Linked DNA regions of Homo sapiens. The protein of the gene in region 2 purifies or fractionates together with the protein of the main gene of each other region. This does not show direct contact. Each region holds a gene or a part of one and is shown on either strand. Other genes may lie near its edges.

Region 1 (3,500 bases), on a different chromosome or scaffold from region 2:
GACTTAGCATAAACTTTATTGGTTTGGGTTCTCTTGGCTATTCTGGAGTGGGGCTGAGGCAGGTGCTAAGTGAAGGGCAGAATCCAGTCCTGAGCTGGGTGTGGTCAGAGTCACCGAGACCTGGGGAGAGTGGGGAAAGGAGAAGAAGGTTGTTATGGACTTGGAGTCGGCCAAGCACATTTATCCTGGGACCCAACCATTGTTGAACCCCTCCTACCTTCAAATCACCTTTTTAAATATTTTAATTTTTATCAATTTACTTTTTTTTTTTTTTTTGAGACGGAGTCTCGCTCTGTCGCCCAGGCTGGAGTGCAGTGGCGCGATCTCGGCTCACCGCAAGCTCCACCTCCTGGGTTCACGCCATTCTCCTGCCTCAGCCTCCCGAGTAGCTGGGACTACAGGCGCCCGCCTCCACGCCCAGCTAATTTTTTGTATTTTTAATAGAGACAGGGTTTCACTGTGTTAGCCAGGATGGTCTCGATCTCCTGACCTCATGATCCACCCTCCTCGGCCTCCCAAAGTCCTGGGATTACAGGCATGAGCCACCATACCCGGCCTCATTTTACTTATTTTTTAAGAGACAGTCTCACTGTGGTGCCCAAGCTGGAGTGCAGTGACTGTTTACAGATGTGATCATAGATCACTGCAGTCTTGAACTCCTGGCCTCAAGCAATGCTCCCACCTTTGCCTCATCAAATCACCATTTTAATGATAAGTAATCAAAATAATTCACAATATCCACCTTCTTACGGAGATTTTCTTACACCCTCTTCTCCATGGATCTGCTCACACTCCTGTCCCTTCTTCCCCTCCTGAGGTTCCTGTCCCAGATTTGCTCCCTCAATCCCTCCCTAGCTGCTCAGCATCAATGTCTGAAGTGTTTTGGTTTCCGTGCCTCTGTGTCTGCATCATGAGGGTCCTGTCTCACCCTTTAGGTGGACAGGTGTCTTCATAATATTTAGTGCCTCGATTCTGGGACATAAGGAATGGACTGAAGAATTTTCTAGCTGATGAGGGGGATTCAAGAGACCATTGAAGCCAGCAGTGGCCACAGAGGAAGGAAACATGCCTCTAACTATGTAGTTTCCCATCACCAGGAAGGTGCCATGGCCCAAGGGTACAGAGGGAAAGCTGAGAACAGGATGGGCTCAGCTCTGTGTGTAGGGACAGGCAGGACACAGGATGGGCTCAGCTCGGTGGGTAGGGACAGGCGGGACACAGGATGGGCTCAGCTCGGTGGGTAGGGACAGGCAGGCCACAGGATGGGCTCAGCTCTGTGTGTAGGGACAGGCAGGCCACAGGATGGGCTCAGCTCGGTGGGTAGGGACAGGCAGGCCACAGGATGGGCTCAGCTCGGTGGGTAGGGACAGGCGGGACACAGGATGGGCTCAGCTCGGTGGGTAGGGACAGGCAGGCCACAGGATGGGCTCAGCTCGGTGGGTAGGGACAGGCGGGCCACAGGATGGGCTCAGCTCTGTGTGTAGGGACAGGCGGGACACAGGATGGGCTCAGCTCGGTGGGTAGGGACAGGCGGGACACAGGATGGGCTCAGCTCGGTGGGTAGGGACAGGCAGGCCACAGGATGGGCTCAGCTCGGTGGGTAGGGACAGGCGGGACATAGGATGGGCTCAGCTCTGTGTGTAGGGACAGGCAGGCCACAGGATGGGCTCAGCTCGGTGGGTAGGGACAGGCGGGACACAGGATGGGCTCAGCTCTGTGTGTAGGGACAGGCGGGACACAGGATGGGCTCAGCTCGGTGGGTAGGGACAGGCGGGACACAGGATGGGCTCAGCTCTGTGTGTAGGGACAGGCAGGCCACAGGATGGGCTCAGCTCTGTGTGTAGGGACAGGCGGGACACAGGATGGGCTCAGCTCGGTGGGTAGGGACAGGCGGGGCATAGGATGGGCTCTGGGTGGGTAGAGACAGGCAGGTAGGGATAGGCAGGGGAGAGCATCACCTCGCCTGGAAGAGTGAGGAAGAAGAACAAATAGTAATCAGAGCTACTAACCTTGCTGAGCTCTTATTACTCCTCAAAGATGGCCCTCAGGTCTCCACTTGAATTGTCTTTTTTTTCTTTTGTTTTTTTTCTTTGTATTTTTCCACTTGCATTCTCTTACTTAAAGCTGACAACAATCCTGTGAAATGATTCTATACCTCTGATTTTAGTGAAAACACTGAGGTTCAGAAAGGCTATGTAATCAGCCAGCATGTGGAGGGGCAAAGATCTGAATCCATGTCTGATGCCCAAGCTCAAGTTAGAACCGCTGTGCAACACCACACTCCCCTACCTGAGCCTGCAGAGGTTTGTCTGATCCAGCAAGCAGGCCAACAGCTCTTGAATCAGCAAGTCCCGCAGCAAATCTTCATCGCTGGGGTTCTTGGCTGGGGAGCTGCAAGGGAACAGTCTCTGGCTAACTATTTTAGCCTGAGCTTCGCCCAGAGAGGGTAAACACAGGGTTGGGGACACCACTGAGGGGCAGCCGCGGATGGGGGGAGGGAGCCGACACAGCTATCTCTCCGTTGGCTCAGCTCTGAGATCTGGAGCCTCCTTTCTGCCAGCCCCACCCAGCGCTGCCTGCCTGGGGAATATGGACTCTTCATACAGGGAGAGTCAAACAGAATTCTGGTATGAGATATTCTGCCCATCCACCTCTGCCAGTGTTCCAGAATGCAGAGAGTACTTTGGGCACATTCACTCTTTGAAATGACCTGTGCCATTCAGAGAGGGGATAACTGATTTCAGGGGAGTGGGCCTGGGAAGATCCCCCGCTCTTTCACAAACAGTCTTCCCGAGGTTTGGCAGGGAGAGGTGGTGAGGCCAGGACCTGAGGTCTCTTCTTTCCTGCCCTTCTCCTGACTCAGTGACTGTGCTGTGCATGCAGTCATCAATATTAGAAACCCTGTCCCTGAAACCCCTCCTAGCACCCCTCCCGTTTCTCCAAGGCTTCTTCCTTAAGCTTGGGCTGACCTCCAGGAGTTTGCTCAATGAAGACCCCTCTTTGAACTCTGAGAGGAAGAGGATGCTTATCTCAGGTCCTTGCTCTGCTCTGGGGTCAGGGAGAGGGAACAAAGAGGTGGGGGCGGGGCAGGAGGCTTGGCTCCCTCCCTTCCCTCTGCGCCCTGACTCACCTCTGTGGCTCCACTGCCTCCTCCTCCTTCCTATTAGCTTGACTGGCCAGCTCCAGCGCCCGAGCCTCCCTCTGGGTGATGTTGTGTTTCCAGCTGGGAAGATAAAGATTAGAGAGTGGGCAAGCTGCGGAGACTCCAGTCTAGGGACACTTGAATCTTTTAATATCTGAACCCCAAAAGCAGAGGGTACCTTTTTCCACTCAACCCCACCTAACAGTGGTCTTCAGCTGCCTCCACCAGTGAACAGCTTTTCAGAATCTACCGTGCTGACCAGAGAGGGCGGGGAAAGAGACTTGGCATAGAGCAGGGAGAAGGACGAGGACAGTTAATCTTCTCTTCATTTTTTTTGGTGTGTGTGTGAGAGACAGGG
Region 2 (3,218 bases):
AGCCACAGTTAAGTACAGTTACTGAAGTTCTCCCATCCTACTAATTTGAAAGCCATAGAAGGCATTTCAGATTTCACAAGAAGGAGCTTAGGTGAGTATATTAGGACCCTGGTCAAAAAGCCAGGCTGCAATCACCTGCAGTTTTTGTTGATTAATTTACCTACATGGAGTAAGTAGGCCTCATCTGATGTAGGTAATCTTCAGCAAGGGGACCTCAGGTTTTATGAGACTGTTGCTGCAGACTGATTGTGTGTTGACTTAAGACAGTTGTTCCTTAAGCTCTTTTTCAATTTAGCCTGTTTTCTCTTTCCATATTGCTATTCATAATATTTGGGGTTTGATATGAAGGGATTCCGGCTATTCAGTGACTTGTATGCGTCTTGAAAAAGTAGATTCTTATGGCTAGGGAATTTTAAAGGTAAAGGAAGCTGCACCATAAAATTTCCTTCTTCAAATAAAGTAGATCTGAAATGTTGGCCTAGATATGCTCCCATCCCAGATTCCCGATTCACGTTTAATTTTCAGAAGCCCTTTGACTTTTAATTACTATACTAACAATCATGTGATGATCCTTGACCACAGTTTGACTAGGCAACATACAAAATAGGGAATGAAGGAGCTGCAGTCCTTAATCCCTGCAAGGTTATGGGGATATATTTATGTCTGGAGAAAGATGCTTCATGTATAATCTATGGCATATGCAATATATGCATAGATATATTCAAGGCATTTAGTTATAAATGTACAGGCTTTAATTCCTTCAGTCATTTGCTCCTTGTACCTTTATAGAGATAACAGCTTTTGGGTATCTCTATGCATGTACACGGAGAAAATGACTGTGTAAAATAGTTATTTTACATAGACTAAATTTACATTACTAAATTTTATGTAAAATGACAAGACTTTCAGAGGAGGTGCATTCAATTGAATGGCTTTGATTTGAAAGGGCTGCTTTTAAAAATCCTTTAGGCTTTGGACCTGGTCATCTCATTCAGCTTTTTCTTATTTATACTGTTGTTTTAAACCTACGCTAGCACGCAATTCTAGAATTACAATAACTTTAGGTATCCAGGCAAGATACCTAGTATGTTGTAGGAAGTGGGACTGTAAGAGGCTAGAAAGAGGTGGAAGGAGGCGGGGACTTGGCTTGTAGGCGTTGGCGGTGGTTGTTTTTTGTTTTTTGTTTTTTTGCTTTTTTAATATTGCTTCTAAATCCCTGAGTGACGTTAGAGGCACTGGTTTGATGTTTATGGGCCTAATGATTGCTGCATTTCTTGCAGGTGAAGATATGGTTTCAGAACAAACGCTCTAAGTTTAAGAAACTGCTGAAGCAGGGCAGTAATCCTCATGAGAGCGACCCCCTCCAGGGCTCGGCGGCCCTGTCGCCACGCTCGCCAGCGCTGCCTCCAGTCTGGGACGTTTCTGCCTCGGCCAAGGGTGTCAGTATGCCCCCCAACAGCTACATGCCTGGCTATTCTCACTGGTACTCCTCTCCACACCAGGACACGATGCAGAGACCACAGATGATGTGAGTTGCCCAAGGGAACACCCTAGGGAAACGTCTGAACAAGGAAAAGAGGATCCGGGACCTGCTTGTATCTGCGAAAAGGAGCCAAAGGAGCAGGCTTAGGAGAGCTCATAAGTGTGGCAAGAAGCCGACTAGGCTCATTCTCTCTCCCTCTCTCTCTCTCTCCCTCTCCTTTCTTTTTACTTCTTCCTTTCCTCCATTCCTTCTTTCTTTCCTTTTCCTTTCTACCTTTCTTTTCTTTTTGCCTTTCACCTTTTTTCTCATTTACCTTCTCTCTTGAGCAACGTCAGTAATTGATCTTGCATCTCAGAGAGAGAGAAAGAGCATGTGTGAGAGAGAAACTGGTTTCTATGCCAGCACTCCTGAAACCCCTTACTGTAAGGATATTTTCTCTTACCCCTTGGGATCCAGGCTCTGAGTCTCTTCTCTTTGGGAGTATCCATCAAAATGACTTTTTTTAAAAACAGATTTTCCCCCAACCAGAAGAATCTGCACAAACTTGGCAGCGTTTTTACTTGTTTAATGAGTTTAAGACATTACATGGTGAAAGAGAAGCATTTTGGACTCCTGCATTTTTATTTACCATTCCCAGACTGACGAGAAAAAGAAAATTCCTCACATAACAGCCCTTCTCTAAAGAAAAAGGAAAAAGTGGCTGTAAGATTAGAACATTGCTACAAAGGGAATGCTGCATGTTTTATCAAAATGCAATGACCAGGAATGATGGTTGATTAAAAAAAAACAAAACAAAAACCACTCTTTCCCCACCCCACCCCCCCAAACCCTGAACTGGAATCAGGAAAGACGGAGGAAACAATCAAAATCACCATTCTATTGCTTTGACACCTTTACTAGGTGAATTGGTGGCATTCACAAAGCTAATAGGGACGTTTATATCAAGAAACATTTCTGTATATATTGTTGAATTTTAGTTGTACATATACTTTGTATGTTTTTGTCTTCTTTCATATATGGAGTAAAAGCCACAAAACGCTGAGTGTCTTGTATATTTCTCTCTCTGTGTGTCTCTGTCCCTCTCTTTCCTCCCTCCTCCCTCACTTCCCTTCCCCCCATTAAATTTTCTATCACCCTTAAAAAAATTCCTATTTCCTAATATGGGAAGTCATATGTATATATATGAACATCAAGTGCCTGCAAAGATGTCAGTTTGCACACTAGCCTTTGTCTTAGGTAGTTTAACATTAACCATGGATGTTCTTTCAACTTTCTTTACATATTACGTTTTTATTGTAATTTCTACACATTTACCTATGTTTTAAACATTAGAATGACCTATCCTCAAGTTAACTTCTAGACATCACAGTAGTTTCTAGTGCTGAAACTGAGTATTCTCCTTTCCCTTTTCCCAGCCAAAATAATACAGCCATATTTGTCTTTGTTTGGATGCAGTTTTTTAAAATATAGGAAAGAAAAAAATAGAGAGTAGAGTGCACAATTATGCCTACTTAATGTTTAAAACCCATTGCCAGCTAGCTAGGTAGGAAAATGCACTATGCTGGATGAAATACATCCTTCCGATCTTGGGGAAAGCACAGAAATAATGAAAATGAAAAGTCCTTTCGTCATACAAGCAGGAAGCCCCATACTGCGAGAATTAATGGCTACAGACCTGGGCATCCTTCAAATTATGAACCTTGAAACCACTGAGCCATTTATCAGAAGTCAATAG
Region 3 (3,730 bases), on a different chromosome or scaffold from region 2:
AAAAATGAGTTCTTTGTACTGTACTTGCAGTTTTTCTACAAGTTTGAAATCATTTCCATTATTAAAACAAAACAAAACAAAACATAAATCTTACCCTTCACCCTCCAATTCTTCAGAGGCAATGGGAAGGACCTAAGACCAAAGGAATAGATTGCTTTTCAAATGTATGCTCAAAATGTTTGGCCATAAATGAATTATTCCTAAAATGGAAATAATTTTGAATTTCACCAATCTAATATAAAATCCTTTAGCCTTAGTTTTCAATAACAGATTCTTACAGATGTCTTGAACTCCTTTAACTCAGTGGTTGGGCCAAATCTGGTCTAAAGCCAGTTCATGTAAATAAAGTCTTTACTGAAACAAAGCCACGCTCATTCATTCACATGCTGCTTATGGCCATGTGTGCACTAGTTCGGCAGCACTGAGCAGCACAGTGGAGACCACGGGGCCCCAAAAGCTGAAAACCTTTACGGCCCAGCCCTTCACAAAAACAGTGTGCTAACCCCTGCTCACCTCCAGCTTCCCATTAGAAACTAAATGTACTGGCCATGGCCCCAAGAACTCTGACGAATCTTTAGTCCTTATAAATCTGTCCACAAAGTGCATGAAAGACTGTCTTTTTGATATTTATTTGCACTCAGCATAAAACCATGCTTCATTCTACTGAAGTTTCTATCCCTTGTAAGCCTTTGCCACAAAACAGGGCGTGACCATTTTTTAAAATTTAGTTTTAGTTGCCAAGACATGGCCATTGGTAACTACACGTGGCAAGGACGGCTCAGTAACTGGAACTGTGAGAAAAGCCTTCGGATGTTCTTATGTTATAAGAGCTCCTTAACCTAGGTATTGCCCCAAGTTAAGTTTAAAAAGATGACAGGCTCAAACTCCAAATTATGCTACTATTCTAGAATCTTTTAAATGAGCTAGGATATGTAGGTATGAAGAACGAACGAATGAATGAATGAATACAAACAGAATAAAGCTGACAGGCTGCACTGCACCTTGAAATCAGCGATGCTTACCATTTTTATTGCACGGGCATCATGTCACCCCAGCAGAATATTCCAAAGAGCTGACTAACTGGTCAAACCTCACTCAATTTTGGCTTCTGTTTCCCATGAATAATGCCAAAGAATTTCCTTTTGCCATGCCTTCCTTCCTGGTAACCTCCCCTGGGATCCTGGTTACCTACATGAGTGCCCCGCTGCAAGTTGGCAAAGTGCACGTCAGGAATGAAGAGGACAGGCTGAGTATCGAGATCAATGAAGGGTTTGAAAACTGTGATATCCATTCGCTTGTGAGAGGGAAGCAGTGGCACTTTAACATCAGAAACTGAAAAAAAAAAAAATTAAAAAAGAGGAAGCCAAGGTCAAAGGATTACATACAGACTGGATGCAGGCCACAGAGTGCTCGCCTCTGAGTAAGATACTCCAAGTGTAGCACTCTGTAAGATACAACAGGGCACGCTGCCTGCCTAAGAATCCCAGTTTATGTAAAGGAATTTGTTGTGTGTATTTCCACTAAAATCAACTGAATGTCTTATCAAATCAAAAGGGAAAAGGTATCTTCAAACACACACAGACGCATATCCACAGAAGATTTGCGACAGAGGCAGAGCGTATTTAGTTTTCATTGGAAAGGCTAAAATGTATAATTGTGTAAACATAATTTGGAAGAAATTTCACCTCAGCTGTCCTCATTAAATAATTTACATTCCAACACTCATGGACCCATTGACTTCAGAACATATCAAGAAACTCGACAATGAGGTGAAGTGTAAGCATGCCCATCCAATTTTTAATTTAGTAAGTTAGAGACTCCATCTTCCCCAATGATCTGGCTGGCCCTGAAGTACTCAGTAATGAGGTCTCCTAGTTAGTCAGCTGCTCTCTGAAGTGTCACTGGGAGTTTGTACTTTGATACCAGTAGGAGAATCCTGACTAAGGTGTTGCAGGGCAAATGTCTGCTGAGCCAGACAGACCATTCAAAAGAGCTGCCAGAAGCCCATGTACTACAGATGGAACCCTACAGGCACAGAACAGCACTTTCTTCATTTTAGATACAAGATTTTGTGAATATGAATACTGGTCACAATTAAAAAAAAAAGAAAACAAAGCCTTCCTGGTGAAATGTCCAAACAGAAGCCCTATAGATTCTGCAAATATTAAAATACTATACTTTAGATACAAAATATGATCTTACTTGGAGTTAAGACATCTTGAATTCTCAAGACCATTATTATTACTTTAAAAAATCTAGATAAGTCCCAATTTTAACAGTGATTCATGCAGAACGTGTTGTCATTTTTCAAGACTGGAAACAGAAGTCTGAACTAGAACTGAGAGCCAAAAACGCTGAGGTCGGGAAAACCCAGGGATCTATCCTGTAGTCCCCAGGAAAACCCCTCCCGCTGAGCTGGCATCTGCTGCTGATCTGAGGAAGAGGCAGTGCCACACTGCAGAACAGGAAGAACACCCACTGTCTTCTGCGTGCAAACTCCAGCCACCATTCTCAATGGAAAAGGTCTGAAGCTTGCCGGGAACATTTCTACTTACAGGCATTCACCTGGGAGCTGGGGTCAGGACACTTGCCTTTTCTTTTGCTTTGCTTTCGTTCTTCATCCCTGATTTTCCGCTCAGCTCCCTGTAGGTTAAGAGAAGACAAGATATGATTCTGTTTTCCAATCTTCTTTAAAATATTTAACTCTTATCCTGACCAATGGAAGAAGAAGCCTTTCTCCCTTCTCTGGACAGGAACCCCATTACTTACTATATTCATGAGGCTTATCATAGTAGTTTCTTCTAAAAAGATTAGTCTTAAAATTATTTTTAATTCTATGAAATCACAGGGAACAACATTTATTTGAAAAACAAATAAAGCAAAATTCCGGCCGGAAGCGGTAGCTCATGCCTGTAATCCCAGCACTTTGGGAGGCCGAGGTGGGTGGATCATTTGAGGTCAGGAGTTCGAGACCAGCCTGGCCAACATGGTGAAACCCCACCTCTACTAAAAATACAAAAATTAGCCAGGCGTGGTAGCGGGCACCTGTAGTCCCAGCTACTTGGGAGGCTGAGGCAGGAGAACTGCTTGAACCCCTGAGAGGTGGAGGTTGCAGTGAGCTGAGATCACACCACTGCACTCCAGCCTGGGTGACAAAGCGAAACTCTGTCTCAAAAAAAAAAAGCAAAATTTCTCCTTATAATGGATGTGGTCGTGTTAAATGAAAGCTGAGAAAATCTGTGAGTATACCACATGCCTGCAAAGACACAAGGGTATTTTCCCTTTGTCCAGTAGGAAAAGGAAATGAAAGAAAAAACCCAAGTTGGCCCTACTCTTGAGTATACTCTCCTATATGGCCAAGGTTATCACTGAAGGCTGTGATTCAGTCCAAGGGCCTGGTATCAACCATGTGGCAGATCTAACCAAGCAGAATTCACAAAGTGAAGATGGAACTAGAAATATGCATCATCACTTAAAAGAGAACAAGTGGGCTGGGCGCGGTGGCTCACGCTTGTAATCCCAGCATTTTGGGAGGCCGAGGTGGGTGGATCCCTTGAGGCCAGGAGTTCACGACCAGCCTGGCCAACATGGGAAACCCTGTCTCCATTAAAAATACAAAAAATTTAGCCGGGCGTGGTGATGCATGCCTGTAATCCCAGCTACTCGGGAGGCTGAGGCAGGAGAATCAGTTGAACCTGGGAGGTAGAGATTGCGGTGAGCTGGGATCGCA

What was found.
Region 1: the proteins of DLX6 (region 2) and GIP purify together in Homo sapiens (affinity purification with mass spectrometry; one large-scale study listed by BioGRID and IntAct). This does not show direct contact.
Region 3: the proteins of DLX6 (region 2) and GRHL1 purify together in Homo sapiens (co-immunoprecipitation; one large-scale study listed by IntAct). This does not show direct contact.

The regions. Positions count from the first base shown.
Region 1 is NC_000017.11:48,958,597-48,962,096, forward strand, and holds part of GIP (gastric inhibitory polypeptide preproprotein), read right to left. Parts: intron 3,224-3,500; coding exon 3,131-3,223; intron 2,392-3,130; coding exon 2,290-2,391; intron 121-2,289; coding exon 111-120; 3' UTR 1-110. UniProt on the Homo sapiens protein: Potent stimulator of insulin secretion and relatively poor inhibitor of gastric acid secretion.
Region 2 is NC_000007.14:97,008,516-97,011,733, forward strand, and holds the end of DLX6 (homeobox protein DLX-6), read left to right. Parts: intron 1-1,280; coding exon 1,281-1,532; 3' UTR 1,533-2,525; downstream 2,526-3,218.
Region 3 is NC_000002.12:9,989,609-9,993,338, reverse strand, and holds part of GRHL1 (grainyhead-like protein 1 homolog), read right to left. Parts: intron 2,644-3,730; coding exon 2,592-2,643; coding exon of another isoform or gene 2,556-2,591; intron 1,333-2,555; coding exon 1,193-1,332; exon of another isoform or gene 1,023-1,192; intron 365-1,022; exon of another isoform or gene 133-364; coding exon 95-132; exon of another isoform or gene 1-94. UniProt on the Homo sapiens protein: Transcription factor involved in epithelial development. Binds directly to the consensus DNA sequence 5'-AACCGGTT-3'.